Regions from separate parts of the Homo sapiens genome. Here region 2 is linked to region 1. A link means that fine-mapping ties the variant in region 1 to the expression of a gene that starts in the linked region. Tissue or cell type: lymphoblastoid cells. Region 1 holds a variant in brackets; the other region holds the start of a gene. All regions are shown on one strand. Distances are between the middles of the regions.

What was found. PIP is the estimated chance that this variant, and not a neighbour inherited with it, causes the effect.
Region 2: CD44 starts here. The variant in region 1 is fine-mapped to the expression of CD44 in lymphoblastoid cells (TwinsUK, PIP 0.95).

The regions. Positions count from the first base shown.
Region 1 is chr11:35,025,460-35,033,723 of GRCh38, forward strand. It overlaps LOC105376626 (a long non-coding RNA gene), which reads right to left. Exons shown (of 4, transcript XR_001748180.2): 3 at 4,710-4,806. Among named protein-coding and RNA genes, the nearest start is that of MIR1343, 88 kb to the left of the region's middle. RefSeq lists enhancers at 4,554-5,753, 4,716-4,835. The variant G/C (reference allele first, on the strand shown) is at 4,800.
Region 2 is chr11:35,136,109-35,144,108 of GRCh38, forward strand. CD44 (CD44 molecule (IN blood group)) reads left to right here and starts at 3,063. Exons shown (of 18, transcript NM_000610.4): 1 at 3,063-3,262. The coding sequence starts at 3,196. It overlaps CD44-DT (CD44 divergent transcript), which reads right to left and starts at 1,924. Exons shown (of 3, transcript NR_120528.1): 1 at 1,590-1,924; 2 at 238-518. RefSeq lists enhancers at 2,228-2,792, 3,960-4,460 and a silencer at 2,703-2,772.

The DNA.
Region 1 (8,264 bases):
CTGAAATTAAGGCAATAATTAATAGCCTACCAACCAAAAAACGTCCAGGACCAGACAGATTCACAGCTGAATTCTACCAGAGGTACAAAGAGGAGCTGGTACCATTCCTTCTGAAACTATTCCAATCAATTGAAAAAGAGGGAATCCTCCTTTACTCATTTTGTGAGGCCAGCATCATTCTGATACCAAAGCCTGGTAGAGGCACAACAAGAAAAGAATTTTAGGCCAATATCCCTGATGAACATCAATGCGAAAATCCTCAATAAAATACTGGCAAACCGAATCCAGCAGCACATCAAAAAGCTTATTCACCACAATCAAGTTGGCTTCATCCCTGGGATGCAAGGCTGGCTCGACATAACGCAAATCAATAAATATAATCCATCACATAAATAGAACCAATGACAAAAACCACATGATTATCTCAATAGATGCAGAAAAGGCCTTCGACAAAATTCAACAGCCTTTCATGCTGAAAACTCTCAATAAACTAGGTATCGAAGGAACGTATCTCGACATAATAAGAGCTATTTATGACAAACCCACAGCCAATATCATACTGAATGGGCAAAAACTGGAAGCATTCCCTTTGAAAACTGGCACAAGACAATGATGCCCTCTCTCACCACTCCTATTCAACATAGTATTGGAAGTTCTGGCCAGGGAAATCAGGCAAGAGAAAGCAATAAAGCGTATTCAAATAGGAAGAGAGGAAGTCAGATTGTCTCTGTTTGCAGATGACATGATTGTATACTTAGGAAACCCCATCGTCTCAGCCCAAAATCTCCTTAAGCTGAGAAGCAACTTCAGCAAAGTCTCAAGATACAAAATCAATGTGCAAAAATCACAAGCATTCCTATATACCAATAACAGACAAACAGAGAACAAAATCATGAGTGAACTCCCATTCAAAATTGCTACTAAGAGAATAAAATACCTAGGAATACAACTTACAAGGGATGTGAAGGACCTCTTCAAGGAGAACTACAAACCAATGCTCAAGGAAATAAGAGAGGACACAAACAAACTAGGCCCCCCAAAACCCACCACCACTTATTAGACAGAATTAAGTGGGTTTGGGCCAGAACAGGGGAAGGTCTGAGCAAATAAAAATCTCAGAGATGGCGTGTATCATTCCATCTTCAACCTGCAAACACCCACGGGGCCTGAGGCACAGACCTCCATGGGCTCATGTGCATCGTCACATCAAACACCGTTAATGGGCCAGAGTGTGGCCTGTCCTGCAGGACACCACAGCAGGACATACTCTGTGCTTGTCTTAAGGATCCCATCACCCTAAAGAAGGAAGTCAGACAGACAAAGGATTAACAGGAAACAGCTGCAAATATACCATTAAAGAAAGATATGAAAGGGAAAATGCTTTGACATTAGAAAGGTTTTGTTTGTTTGTTCTTGCATTCCATACTCATGGATAGAAAAATCAGTATCATGAAAATGGCATTACTGCCCAAAGTAATTTATAGATTCAATGCTATCCCCATCAAGCTACCACTGACTTTCTTCACAGAATTGGAAAAAACTACTTTAAACTTCATATGGAACAAAAAAAGAGCCTGCATAGCCAAGACAATCCTGGGCAAGAAGAACAAAGCTGGAGGCATCACGCTATCTGACTTCAAACATTACTACAAGGCTACAATAATCAAAACAGCATGGTACTGGTGCCAAAACAGCATGGTACTGGTGCCAAAACAGCTATATAGACCAATGGAACAGAACGGAGACCTCAGAAATAACACCACACATCTACGACCATCTGATCTTTGACAAACCTAAGACACGCAAGCAATGGGGAAAAGATTCCCTATTTAATAAATGGTGTTGGGAAAACTGGCTAGCCATATGCAGAAAACTGAAACTGGACCCCTTCCTTACACCTTATACAAAAATCAATTCAAGATGGATCAAAGACTTAAACATAAGACCTAGGACCATAAAAATCCTGGAAGAAAACCTGGGCAATATCATTCAGGACATAGGCATGGGCAAAGACTTTATGTCTAAAACACTGAAAGCAATGGCAACAAAAGCCAAAATTGATAAATGATTAAACTAAAGAGCTTCTGCACAGCAAAAGAAACTATCATCAGAGTGAACAGGCAACCTACAGAGTGGGAGAAAATTTTTGCAATCTATCCATCTGACAAAGGTCTAATATCCAGAATCTACAAAGAACTAAAAACAAAGTTACAAGAAAAACGCAAACAACCCCATCAAAAAATGGGCAAAGGATATGAACAGACACTTCTCAAAAGAAGACATTTATGCAGCCAACAGGCATATGAAAAAATGCTCATCCTCAATAGTCATTAGAGAAATGCAAATCAAAACCACAATGACATACAATCTCACACCAGTTAGAATGGCGATCATTAAAAAGTCAGGCAACAGCAGATGCTGGAGAGGTTGTGGAAAAATAGGAATGCTTTTACACTGTTGGTGGGAGTGTAAATTAGTTCAGCCATTGTGGAAGACAGAGTGGCGATACCTCATGGATCTAGAACTAGAAATACCATTTGACCCAGCACTTCCATTACTGGGCATATACCCAAAGGGTTATAAATCATGCTACTGTAAAGACACATGCACACGTACGTTCATTGTGGCACTATTCACAATAGCAAAGACTTGGAACCAACCTAAATGTCCATCAATAATAGACTGGATTAAGAAAATGTGGCACATATGCACCATGGAATACTATGCAGCCATAAAAAAGGGTGAGTTCATGTCCTTTGCAAGGACATGGATGCAGCTGGAAACCATCATTCTCAGCAAATTATCACAAGATCAGAAAACCAAACACTGCGTGTTCTCACTCATAAGTGGGAGTTGAACAATGAGAACACATGGACACAGGGAGGGGGACATCACATACAGGGGCCTGTGGGGCGTGGGGGGGTAGGGGAGGTTTAACATTAGGAGAAATACCTAACGTAGGTGATGGGTTGATGAGTGCAGCAAACCACCATGGCACGTGTATACCTATGTAACAAAACTGCACGTTCTGCACATGTAACCCAGAACTTAAAGTATAATAACAATAAAAAAAACTTTGTCCCCCAGTCACTAATGCCTATAACCATGTGCAAAGTTATGTGCCCACAGGCGACAATATCCGCTTTTGCTTACTGCCATATAGTATGTTTGAGTTCTCTTTATTTTGCCGTTGGAGATTTCCTTTATGTCTCTTGAACTTGGCCATGTATTTCAGCCAGCATTTCTTTAGGTTTATAAAGGGAGGGACCCCATTTCTGTTACCTTAGTCTGGCATGTTATGAGGAGTTCATTTTTTAATGATATAGAAACCTTGTATATCAGTCAATCTGTTGCTGTGTTAAAAAAAAATATATAGTAGCTTAAACAATCATTACTCACAAATGAGGGGATGGTGCTGATTCTTAGGGTCTGACCCAGTTGATCTTGGCTGGGCTCAGTCATGTGTTTGTGCTCAGCTGATAGGTCAACCTGGTGCTGCCTGATCTGAGATGGCCTCACTCACATGTATGGCTATTAGCTATTTATTGAGTGGGTTTAAAGTCTCTGGTAATGAGGTTATATGTTTCTCATCAACCAGAAGCTAGCCCAGACTCATCCATGTGGCATTGGCAAGATTCTGAGAGTAAGATTGGAAGTGCACAGCCCCTTGATGCCAAGACTCAGAACTGTCACAGCGTCAATTTTGTGCCATTATAGTGGCCTAAGCAGGTCACAAACCAGCCCAGATTCAAAGAATGGGGAAGAGTTGCACAGTAGCATTAAAAAGAGCTCTGTACTGAGAAGGGAACAATGTGGACATTTTGGCAAACAAGGTATCTCACATTGGAAAACAAAATTTTTAGACATATAATCATTCAAAACTATTTAACAGTCTTTATTCTAGCCAATCAATCATGAATGCAGAGTTTTCCATTCATTTTGAAAGCCAATAGCTTTAAAATATATACATTAATTTAGAAGGATGCAGAAATGAGCCAACAAAATTAATTCAAAAAAATTAGTACCAGGACTATTGGGTAAATATAAAGGATTAAAGATTACTTTTTAAAAAAATCTAACGTTTTGTATTGCATTAAGTTTTCCATGTACTTTCATATATTTCATTATTTCTGAATCATACAATATATATAGTTCTTTCCACTTTATGGATAAACCTCTGAGTCTCAGAAGCTTGCCCTAAATCATTCAGTAAGTGGCAAAACCATCACTTGGATCCTGGTCTTCTGACTATAATCCCATGCACTGTCTACTTTATCCTGCAGCCTGCAGGTCAGAAAGGGTTGGTCTAAATGAAATTGTGTCTATTTTTATGCAATGAATAAATTCTTGAAATTTTTCTTGAAAATCATAATTATAATTTAAATGCTATGATAGAAGTTTTCAAAAAGTAAATAATCATAAATGGCCAGTGACTCTCAGCTGTCACTGAATGCTGTGGATAAAAAAAAAAATCCTTGAAAAAAAAATGAGCTCTTAGGTTTGCACATGAATTCAGAGGTAGCTTGGGAGTTTGAGGTTTTCTAACTATAGGTCCCCCAAACCCTCTTTCTGGTGATAATGACAGCTTCTTGGGAAAAGTCAAGATGCCTCTGTTTTGGGTGTGGTTCCCGAATTTGCTTCTGCAAGCAGCGTGACTCATTTGTTGAGCTCACTTTATGCAAAGTGGTTGTGGGAAGTGAGCTACTTACCAGGAGAAAAATGTAGTATTTTGGGGGTTTCTAATGGCTTTCCCGAGACGAGGTGTCTGCTGAGCTGGAACAGCATTAGCACTTTGAAGG[G/C]TGTGTTCTGTGTCAGACAGAAAACCTAGAGTTAGTACCATCTGATGACTTCTACCAGGAAGGAAGGAAACTGACATTTATTGATCATGAATTGTGCAGATCGTATGCCAGGTGCTTTGCATGTATTATTATTTTTTCATCCTCATAAAAAACCCATTTTATAAATAAGGGGACTAAGGTTTGGAAAATTTGACAGGATTTATCATAGTCACAAAGCCAGTAGGTAATGGAGATAGGATTTTAACCCCCTTACTCTTTCTGAATCCACCAGGCTGGGGAGGATGTGTGGTAAAGATCATAAATTTAAGTCAATATTGGGAAATTATGTGAAAGGCTTAAATTAGCAACTGCAGCACCTTAAGAAAAATTAAAGAGAAATTGTGTGTGGTAAAAGGAATTTTTTTTTTTCTAGTGAAATTTTGTATCAGTTTGCCTGGGCTTCCTGTGTGAGATGCTCTGTGTTCCTGGCGAGAGGCTGGGCCCAGCAGGCCTGTCCTTGTGCTCAGCGACTCTCCCACCTCTCCAGCCGATTCCTTCCATCCTTGTACGAGGCTGAATTCTGACGCCCAGGATGAGCTCCAGCGGACGTCAAGCTGATGTGTCATCTTATGAGTGAGGGCTTCTGAGCTAGTGCCCATGAGCTCTGACTCATCAGGCTTCTAATTATAACTCGTCCTGGCTTCTCAGATAATGGGTTTGTCTCAATAGTTTCCAGGGACACATTAGACCAGTCCTATATTTTGTGGGACTTGGGTGTTTAGGCAGCCCGTGGTGTTCTGGGCGGAAATAGAGAAGAGACTGACAAGTCATCAAGAATTTCAGTGGTGCCCCTGAAAGTTGTCACAGCATCTCAAATGTGCCTCTGAGCAAATGGTCTTTGGCAGAGCTTGGCAACCCTGCTTCAGGTTCCAACACTACAGCGTACAATCCCTAAAAGAGCTTTGGCATCCTGAGGATGTTAATGTCCCATAATGCCCAATGGCTGTGGTGGTAATGATGGGTAATAGACTTTAGACCCCACAAAACCAGCTCTCCAGGCACCCCACAGGGAACAGCAGTGGGCAAAATAGTGGGCAGAGCAGAGAAGGAAAGTAACATAGGATTCTACGTGGTTCCCACCTGTGGAAATGAACAGGACCCTTGCAAGTCCATTTGGGGCACCTCTAGTGACTCCTCGAAGACAAAGCAGATAAGGACAAGAGCTTCTGAAATAAAAACTGCATTGACCCAGAACTTTGGGACTGCAAGAGGACTGAGAGGCCCTAAATTTAACCACTACATTTCACAGACCAACTATAGCTCAGAAAGACTGTGATTTTCCAGTATTGCACAGCTAGTTAGAACCTATAGCTTTTCAACCCTCCATCTAGCATCTTTGATGCCCAACAAATAGTAAGTATTCCTCCAAAATTAAAAAATTTCCTTGTGTTCATGATTCAGTTGATTAAAATTGAGGTGGCTTTTTTTTTTTTTTTTGCCATTTTAAAGGACGTTGACAGAATCATTCAGTGGTATATCTCCAACTATAAGATCTTTTGAATTTGACACCACATCTAAAGTTCTTTTTCTTTCTTTTTAAAATTTTCTTTTAAAAGTTTACTTGACTCGATGGATTCAACATGTAAAGTTAGTTCTGTCTTTATGGTTTTCACACAGAAATTTGTATTGATGGTGCAAAGCTTAGGATTCTTCAAATGAGTTTGTTATGGAGGCTTGCTTTTCTGTCCTGCCTATTGCTACTACATTATCTCTGCATCTCAGATACAAATCAACACTGACTGAATCACAGAGCCAGCTCATGATAGGCATGTGATGACGAGTGAACCAGGAAAAGGGCAAGAGGGGCCTGGGGCTAAATCTTAGCCTGAGTCAAACTTGGGAAGAGACCAGGACATCAAGTGTGGAGGCCCAGAGTGAGAGTAGAATCAGTCTTTGGAGTAGAGCAGAGACAAGGTTTGAGGCAGAACAGAAAGCAAAGAAGGAGGGTCTAGGGAACTGCAAAGAGATTTCCATTCTAGTGCTCACACTCATCAACTTGTAGGAATTCACAGATCAATGGATTAGTGATTAAGCTTGGTAGGATTGTTGTGTAAATGGCCAGTGGTGTCTGCTCTGGATGAGGAAAGGAGAGTAAATGTATGAGTGCTGCATATTTGCAGTCTACAGCAGTATAGCCAAATGCTTACAAGTGCAAACTGCAGATGGTCTTATCGCTGCCCCTTATAGCTGGTGACATTGGACAAGTCACTTGACTCTTCATTGTCTCATTTTCCCAGCTTGAAAAATGGGTAAAAACTCATAAAGGTTTTCTGAACATTAAATAGAATTATATAGGAACGTTGCCTAGAACAATGCCTGGGACACAGTCGTCACTCAACATATGTTAACTATTATGACAGTGCTATCCCTGGTCTTGGACACTTGCTATGAAAAGCTTTGGAGTATCTGCGATATGTAAGGATGAGGATCAGATTTAAAAGGGCATAGCAAACTTGGGGTTAGTTGGACAACTTCTCTTTTTCTGATAATGTCTATAAAGGTGTTTTGAACCAAGAGTACTTAAAACAAAACTTTAACATGTGTTTTGAGCCTGACTGCTGGAGGGGATGCTTGAAAAACAATGTGGATTACCTAAAAGCAGCCTCCACCTTAATCCATGTTGGCCGCTAAGTGTGGGGTTTTGTTGAAACCACTCATACCACTTAATTAGCTTGCTCAATCGTTGTTTTTAGTCTGAAAATTTTTGAAAATCCTCCCCCTGCACTAAAATTAGGGAATGGAGGAGTGGGAATAAGAGAAGCTCTAACCACGCAGGCTTGACCTTGTATAGTGGAACAGACTTTGCCTTGCACCAATGGGGATTGAAGATGGCATGACCTCTTCTCTGAACTCCATCTCATTGCCCTAATGAGGACCTGGCAGCGCCTGGGTCCGCCACTTGACTTCCAAGTCTCATGATTAGAGGCTCTTTATTTGCTCACACCTCACATACTTCAGGTTCAGGAAGTGGAGGAGGTGCCAGATCTCATTCCGCGTCCCTCCTGCCCCTTCAGAATGTATACTTCCTTGCTACCGGTACCCTCTTTCCTTTCTGCCCTCAATCCTCAGTCTGCTGGTCACACCTCATTCTCTGAGGACTTAAACATCTGTCTTCCTCTCAAGGCCAAATTCCATTGTCAAAGAGAATGAGAGGAGAATTATTTCTTCTCTACCTTCTGAACAATTGGACATTGCAAGAGAAAACCAAAGAATGAAGTTCATTGGTTTCACATAGCATTCATGATCATCAGTCTCAAAAGATGTCTAACAATCCTACCATTTTTCTCTAGAAATCTAGCCTTTCCAGTTTCAAGGTGACTATTTGTACCCAAAACACATCCTGCTTTCTTCCACTTACCTCTGGGGGCACTTTTCCCCAAACCTCACTAAGAAAATAAAAGTGGCCAGACATGTATCACCTCCATT
Region 2 (8,000 bases), 110 kb after region 1:
TGGGGAGGGAGAGGCACAGCTTACTCCTCAGCTTTTACTCTGACCACTAGGTCTGCTTCTGAGGGGTCTCTAAGGAACCTCCAGGTTCCATGAAACACAGTAAGACAGACATTGTTCCTAGTGACTCCCCACGTCACTTCACTTTCTTGCTCCAAGAAAAGGAAGCTGAAATCCCTGGAGGTTGCATGAGGTGAAAAAAGCTGCTCCTTGTCCTGTATTCTTGTGCATGGAACCTACCAGGGCTGGTTTCCTCACATGAGTAGGGACTGAAGCCTTATCTGGGAGCCAGTTTGCCCCCAGTTGTTTCAAGAAATAAAGTGTCCTCTTGGTCACAGACAGCAGCAGTAACAACTTTTTCCTGCGGACTGGCAGCATTTTCCAAGCACCTGCTCTTCAGGTGGGAGTTACGGGTCACTGTCTTCATTCCAGACGGGCGGCTCTTTGAGTCATGGCATGCCAGCTTCTGAGTGGCTGAGGACTAGATCCAGACAAGGATTTTTCAGTCCCAAACACTCTTCCTGAAAATGCAAGAGGAGTAGTCTTTAGTCAAACAGAATCTCCACAACTGAAAAATTTATACCGGACTAGACAGTGGTAGTGGTTGCACAATATTGTTAAAGTACTACACGTCACTGCTATAAACACTTTTAAATGGGTGAAATGGTAAATTTTATGTTATGCATATTTTAACATAACAATGATAATAATTTTAACTAAGTACGTTGCCTCCTTATTTCCTACAGGGTCAAGTTCAAACTCCCTGGCATAGCTTACACCTTGTAGTCCCCATACCTGTAACCTCATGTCTGCTATCTTCCCCCAGCCCCTTCATCTGATCTATGTTCAGATCAGCTCACATTGCTCTCTATTCTCTGGACAAGCCATGTTCTTTCACTTTTCTATGCTCAAACACAATTTTGCTTTTAGTAATGATAGCAAACACTTATTTAAAGTGCTTACTGCATGCATATGTAGACATAAATCTACGGCTTAATACATGCAGGGCTTTTGAGTCATTTAATCCTCACCAATTCTATGAAGTAATAGAATTGTAATAGTAATAATAGATACTATTATTAAGCCCATTTTATACTTGAGCAAATTGAGCTAATTGCCTTAGGCAAGGTCACACAACTAAGAAGCAGCCATAATAGGGTTTGGATCTAGGTGTTCTAGCTCCTGAATCCATGCTGTTCGTCACTACACTGTACTGCCTGTGGATGACTTACTTGTCCCTGTAGTTTCATCTGAAGAATTCCTCCTCCTTTTCCTTTGAGGCCTGCCTCAAATATCACTTCCCCTGTGAAGACTGCCTGGTGTTCTCCAGGAGAGAGTGTGACTCCCTTCTCTAGGAATGGTAGCACCCCAAACACACACATTTTGCAGCATATTTCACCTTGCATGGTAATGGCCTGCTTGTGAGTTTTATTCCGTACCAGAGGGTGAGGGCTCTGAAGATAGCGCCAGGTCTTATTTACCTCGATACCCCACAACACTCATTACATGTCTGATGAATGAATGCATAGGGGGATGGCTGGGTGCATTTCTCTCAACTTTTCAATTTCTTGAAATAAATAACAAAATCTTACCTTCCCTCAGAAGTCCTGGCATGGTTCCTTTCATCTTGCCACAGCCACTGATAATCACTTTCATTTTCTGTGTAACTCACCAGGCAAGAAGTCCATGCAGATTTACTTTTAGTAGTTCACATGACAAATAAATACTGCGTTTGATTTCCAAACATTAAACCATAGTATATTATAGATAGATATAGAGTTATCATTCAAAGTATGATATTTCAATCTCAAAAGGCTTCCCCTGAAGAATATTACAAACTCTTCCTCTCTTTAAGATCTGCTGGGTAGGAAAGATGGGAGAAAATGAATTAATGTTTACACAGAAAGGAGGATAATGGGGGCAAAAATAATAGATGAACGTATGGGTGGATGAGAGAATGGATAAAATGATAGGTGGATATGTTGATCTTGGACAGATGGGAAATGAGTGGATATATCAATAAACAGATATGTGGGTGGATGGGTGGAGAAGAGGATGGTGGATGGTTGTGGTTTTATGAAGAGATGTGAAAAAGGAAGTGTGGAATGATGGATGAGAAGTTGTATGGGAAGATGAATAGAAGAATAGGTGGTTGAATAAATTAAAAGGTGTGTGGTTGGATGAATGAATGAGTGGGATGATAGATGGACCTAAGTGGTTAGTGGATGGACAGGAGGATGGATGGATGTGAGAGCCCCAGAAGGACATAAGGAAAGATGGGTGGATAGATGGATGGGCGGATGGAAGGATATTTAGGAGGATGAATGAGCATGTGTGTGGAGAGAGGTGCCCATTCACACTGGCTTGAACACATGGGTTAGCTGAGCCAAATGCCAGCCCTATGACAGGCCATCAGTAGCTTTCCCTGAGCTGTTCTGCCAAGAAGCTAAAATTCATTCAAGCCATGTGGACTTGTTATTGAGGGGAAAAAGAATGAGCTCTCCCTCTTTCCACTTGGAAGATTCACCAACTCCCCACCCCTCACTCCCCACTGTGGGCACGGAGGCACTGCGCCACCCAGGGCAAGACCTCGCCCTCTCTCCAGCTCCTCTCCCAGGATATCCAACATCCTGTGAAACCCAGAGATCTTGCTCCAGCCGGATTCAGAGAAATTTAGCGGGAAAGGAGAGGCCAAAGGCTGAACCCAATGGTGCAAGGTTTTACGGTTCGGTCATCCTCTGTCCTGACGCCGCGGGGCCAGCGGGAGAAGAAAGCCAGTGCGTCTCTGGGCGCAGGGGCCAGTGGGGCTCGGAGGCACAGGCACCCCGCGACACTCCAGGTTCCCCGACCCACGTCCCTGGCAGCCCCGATTATTTACAGCCTCAGCAGAGCACGGGGCGGGGGCAGAGGGGCCCGCCCGGGAGGGCTGCTACTTCTTAAAACCTCTGCGGGCTGCTTAGTCACAGCCCCCCTTGCTTGGGTGTGTCCTTCGCTCGCTCCCTCCCTCCGTCTTAGGTCACTGTTTTCAACCTCGAATAAAAACTGCAGCCAACTTCCGAGGCAGCCTCATTGCCCAGCGGACCCCAGCCTCTGCCAGGTTCGGTCCGCCATCCTCGTCCCGTCCTCCGCCGGCCCCTGCCCCGCGCCCAGGGATCCTCCAGCTCCTTTCGCCCGCGCCCTCCGTTCGCTCCGGACACCATGGACAAGTTTTGGTGGCACGCAGCCTGGGGACTCTGCCTCGTGCCGCTGAGCCTGGCGCAGATCGGTGAGTGCCCGCCGCAGCCTGGGCAGCAAGATGGGTGCGGGGTGCTCAGCGCGGACCCGGCGGCAGCCCCTCCGGCTGAGTCGGCCCTGGGGGACTGGAGTCAAGTGAGCTGTCTGCGAAGTGCATTGGGCTCCGGAAAGCAGGGCTGGGATTTGCGCTAAACCGTTGGAGAATGTGTCTGTGGAAGCACCATTTGGTTGAAAGAAAAAGAGAAAGAGAAGAAAGTTTGTTGGGCAGGCTGCCGGCGCGCAGTTTTGGGCGAGGTCGCTAGAGCTGCAGCACATGGCAGAAAGTAACCGTTCTCCCGGATGCGCACAGTCGTTGTCTGGACTAACAGGCTCCTGTGCCCAAGGGCTCGCCAAGCCCCACCGGGCTGTGTCTAGGCAGGGCAGAGCTGGGCGGGGCAGAGACTGGGGCTGGAACAGGGCGAGTGGCTGTTATCAAGGTGGTCACAGAAGGGATCACAATTCCAAGTGTGAGACTAGCTGGCAATGGGTTTTCCAGAAAGGGGTCCTGGGTTCTCCCAGCTCCCCACTGAGCCTTGTTCCAAAGCTTACAGTCCGCAGTGTCACTGCCACCTTAGCGCTGTGGAAGCTTGAACCAGCTCTGCGGTGAGGTCTTGGGTCTCCATGAGATTCCAGCCTGGGATAGGGAGCATGAATATGAGAGGCAACCACTGGACCAGCTGCTTGGTCCTCACCACCTCCTGCTTCTGCCAATCAGTGTGGGGAAATCTCAACAGTAAGGTGGCTTATATTCCCTGCCTGGCAGCCTCAGAGCAGAGAGAAGAGCCTTGATACCAGGGCAACATCAGGGACCCTGGAGCTAGGGCTCCAATATCTCATCCAAACAGGGTCAGTGCTTTGTGGTGGCTATGGAGGGGAGGGGCTGCGTGTAAGGTATATTCTAGCACGGCTCAACTCCAAGCATTCTCTTTCTTTGTCTATGTATGTACAGATAATTACATGGCCGATTTGCTTATCGCTGGCCAAAATTAATCTTTCTTTTAAGAAGTGCCAGCTGGGTCATTAAGACAGCTCAGCCTGCATGCAGTAAATTCTACTCAGCAAATATTTATTAACCCAGTTCCACGGGAGTACTGAGAAATTGAAACACACAGTCTCACCCAGGTAGTTTAGATTGAGTACCCAGTATAAAGTATCTTGAATTACTTTCTGCTTTCTCTATCTTCCTACTTTCTGCAGTAGGAAGAAAGTGACCCTAGGTGGAGGCTAGGCAGGATGAGTTCTCTGTGCATATGCATCTCCCTTTCTGTGTGAGTGAGAGGTCTTTGCTAGGTGGGGATTTGGGGATCTAGGATTTATACTACTGAAGCTGAAATAATAATAATAATGATAGCAACAACACAGCCTGTCATGGTGGCCCATGCCTGTAATCCTAGGACTTTGGGAGGCTGAGGCAGCAAATTACCCAAGGTCAGGAGTTTGAGACCAGCCTTGGCCAACATGGTGAAACCCCATCTTTACAAAAAATACAAAAATTAGCAGGGTGTGGTGGTGCACACCTGTAGTCCCAGCTGCTTGGGACGCTGAGGCAGGAGAATTGCTTGAACCTAGGAGGTGAAGGTTGCAGTGAACCAAGATTATGCCATTGCACTCCAGCCTGGGTGACAAAGCGTGACTCTGTTAAAAAAAAAAAAATGAATACAGTGCTAGCTACCATTTACTGTATATTTTCACTGTGCCAGGCATTATGTTAAATATTTTCCATGTGTTATCTCATTCTACCCTCACAATGGCCTAGTAAGAAGCTTCCTGTTATCAGGCCTGTTTGACAGGAGGAAAACTGATGCTTAGAGACGTTAAGTGACTTGCTGGCATTCACATAGCCAGGAGCAGTGCTGGATGGAAACCCAGCTCCACTGAGCTCCAAAGCCTAGGCTTAGAATATGTTAGACTGTATAAGATGGACGAACTTGGAAGGATTTCAGGGAGGGAAGGATTTTGGTGGACTCTAGGCCTTAGGGAAAGTTCCAAAAGGGACTGGAGCTCAAATAAGCCCTTGAAAAGTGGAAACATTCAGGATGGGAGAGAAGAGTCAAGCTGGAGATCAGGGAGAGCCCTGGGCCTGGCCTGAAAGAAGAGGGCCCTGGTGGTTTCCCTATAGTCTCTAGGGAAGTTTATTTGTATGTTACCTACCAGTGCCATCTTCTGCTTTGTCTTTGGGCATTCTGACTCCTGACTCCTTCCAACCTGTCTCCCCGTTCCTTCTAAAAGGCCCCACTTCCAAATATTTGGCACTGTCCTAACCCTTGAGGTTCTCCCAGAGACCCGCAGTCTCCCTCCTGCCCCGTGTTTCCACGGCCCCTTTGCGCAGCATCATTTAGAGGAAGTACAATGAAGTGCCAGTAGCAATAACTGCCCCGGCCCTCGCTTTCATGTGCTTGTAAAGTTGTTTGGCAGGAACTGGGACTTGGAAAGGAGACATGACTTTGTCAGAGGGCTTGGGGCTGGGCATGGTGTGGGTGGCGAAGGGGAGAAGGAGGAAAGGGGAAGGAAAGGAGCTCTTGTTGCCCCATTCTGGGGAGTGGTGGACTCTGGACAACCACGAGGAAACTTTGGAAAGGAGCAAGGCTTTGAGGAGGAGTCCAGTCTTTGTATGGGAAAGCAAAAAGTGGAGAAATGGCCAAATGTAGTTAAGTGACATTGGACCCAGAAACTCTGAGTTGGGGAACAGATATCTTGAATTCGGGGTCTTGTGCAGGAGGAAGAAAGTGGCCCTTGGTGGAGGCCAGGGGGGATGAGTCCTTCATGCACATGCATCTCCTTGTCTCTGTGGGTGAGGGGATCTTTTTTTTTAATTATTATTATACTTTAAGTTTTAGGGTTCAACCATTGTGGAAGTCAGTGTGGCGATTCCTCAGGGATCTAGAACTAGAAATACCATTTGACCCAGCCATCCCATTACTGGGTATATACCCAAAGGACTACAAATCATGCTGCTATAAAGACACATGCACATGTATGTTTATTGTGGCATTATTCACAATAGCAAAGACTTGGAACCAACCCAAATGTCCAACAATGATAGACTGGGTGAGGGGATCTTTGCTTGGGAATTGCATGCCTGGTGTTGAGAAAGAGGAGAGCGTCTGAGAGCCCTGGGTCTTAGGGCTGGCACACACCTTTCTGCTCCCTTCTCTCTAATTGAGCATTAGAGACTCCGCCCCCTGCTGGGAGTTAGAACTTTAGCTGTGTTTTCCCATGTGAAGGAGCAAAGAGGCAAAGCTTCATCTCTGTTGGGGCTAGCATCAACTAATTCAGGTATTCCCCATTTACACATTGGACATCTACTTGCTGCAAAGGCATGGTGACAAGTCCTTGTGTGGGAGGCTGGCAGCCAGTAGGAAAATGTTCCATTTGTTTTTTCCCAAATTTCCCCACAAAGGAGGGGATGCTGGACAGCATGAAATTCTTAGTTCATGACAGATTCCCTTCCATTCATTCAGGAACTATTTCCTGACTCATTGTCATAGACTCAGAGATGGGAACTCTAAGGATCATTTAGAAAATCTGAAAGAGAGGGACTAGTGACTTCCCCTCTCTGCGACTTGTTAAGATATTAGGGCAGGGCATTTCTCTCATGTATCTCTATCATGAGGACTGTGGGAGCCTCAACCCCACCCCCTGCAGTGGGTGGGGAGGGTGTGGTCTACTGGGGTAACAACATTTGTTTCACACCTTAAATACTACCTTACAGACTCATTACAGTTTTATATATTACTCTACAATATACCCAATTTGAGTTTAATACAATAATAATGATATATATTTTTGACCATATAGCAATGTTGGTGTTCGACAATGATTCTCTGTATTGTCCTGGGGCTTCTAGCACCTCCTGGAACATCGCTAGATGGTCAGGAGCACCAAAGTTTTAAAAACCTGATGCTCTGCTGTGGTACCATATGGTCCTGTGTAAAGCAGGGTCCTAAGTCCTGAGTCTCTAGGAAATACTGCTCAGTGAGCACTGACTCTATACTAGATGTGAAGCCGGGGGTAGCACAGGATATCTTATCTAAGCCTCCCAACAGCCCAATACACCTAGCACTCTCTTTAACTCCATTTTCTAGATAAAGAGATCGAGACTTGTGGAGATGGCATGACTTGCCCCAGGATCCAGTGGTGGAGTTGGGATTTCCGCATTATCTAACATCCTCCCATGTTAGACTCCAATGCTTATGCTCCTTCAATTCATTACGTGTCTGGAGGACTTTGGAAGCTATACGTGGCTCTCCCACACTACCTGTCCCCTGTGGCCAGCATAAGTGAACTCTTGCATGGGTGGCTTCTCTCTCCATCCCCGGCAGGCTGTGGACTCTTGGCTGCCCTGCCCTGGCCTGTCTCTCCCCAGGTTTGGCCACAGATATCAGAGATGCCAACCAAGTTATTTGTAACTAAAATAAATCACATCCCTTATCAGAGTCCAGCTGCCCTCCCAGATATGCTCTGATTTACAGGCTTGGAATAAAGAGAGAGGTGGTTGCTTGTCTACAGGACAAGTTAGGGCAATGCCCTCTGCCTGAATATTAGGAAAGCAGCATTACAGGAGCTCTCACTCTGACCAGGCAAGCATTTCACATGCACAGACCCAGAGACCCACTCCTCACATGCTCATTAGTAGGTTGTGCGACCCTGGGTAGGAGGCTGACATGGGTCTTGAACTGAAACCCAGTGTGTGGCTCTAGGTGACATGTGGCCACCCAAGTGAGGTTTCG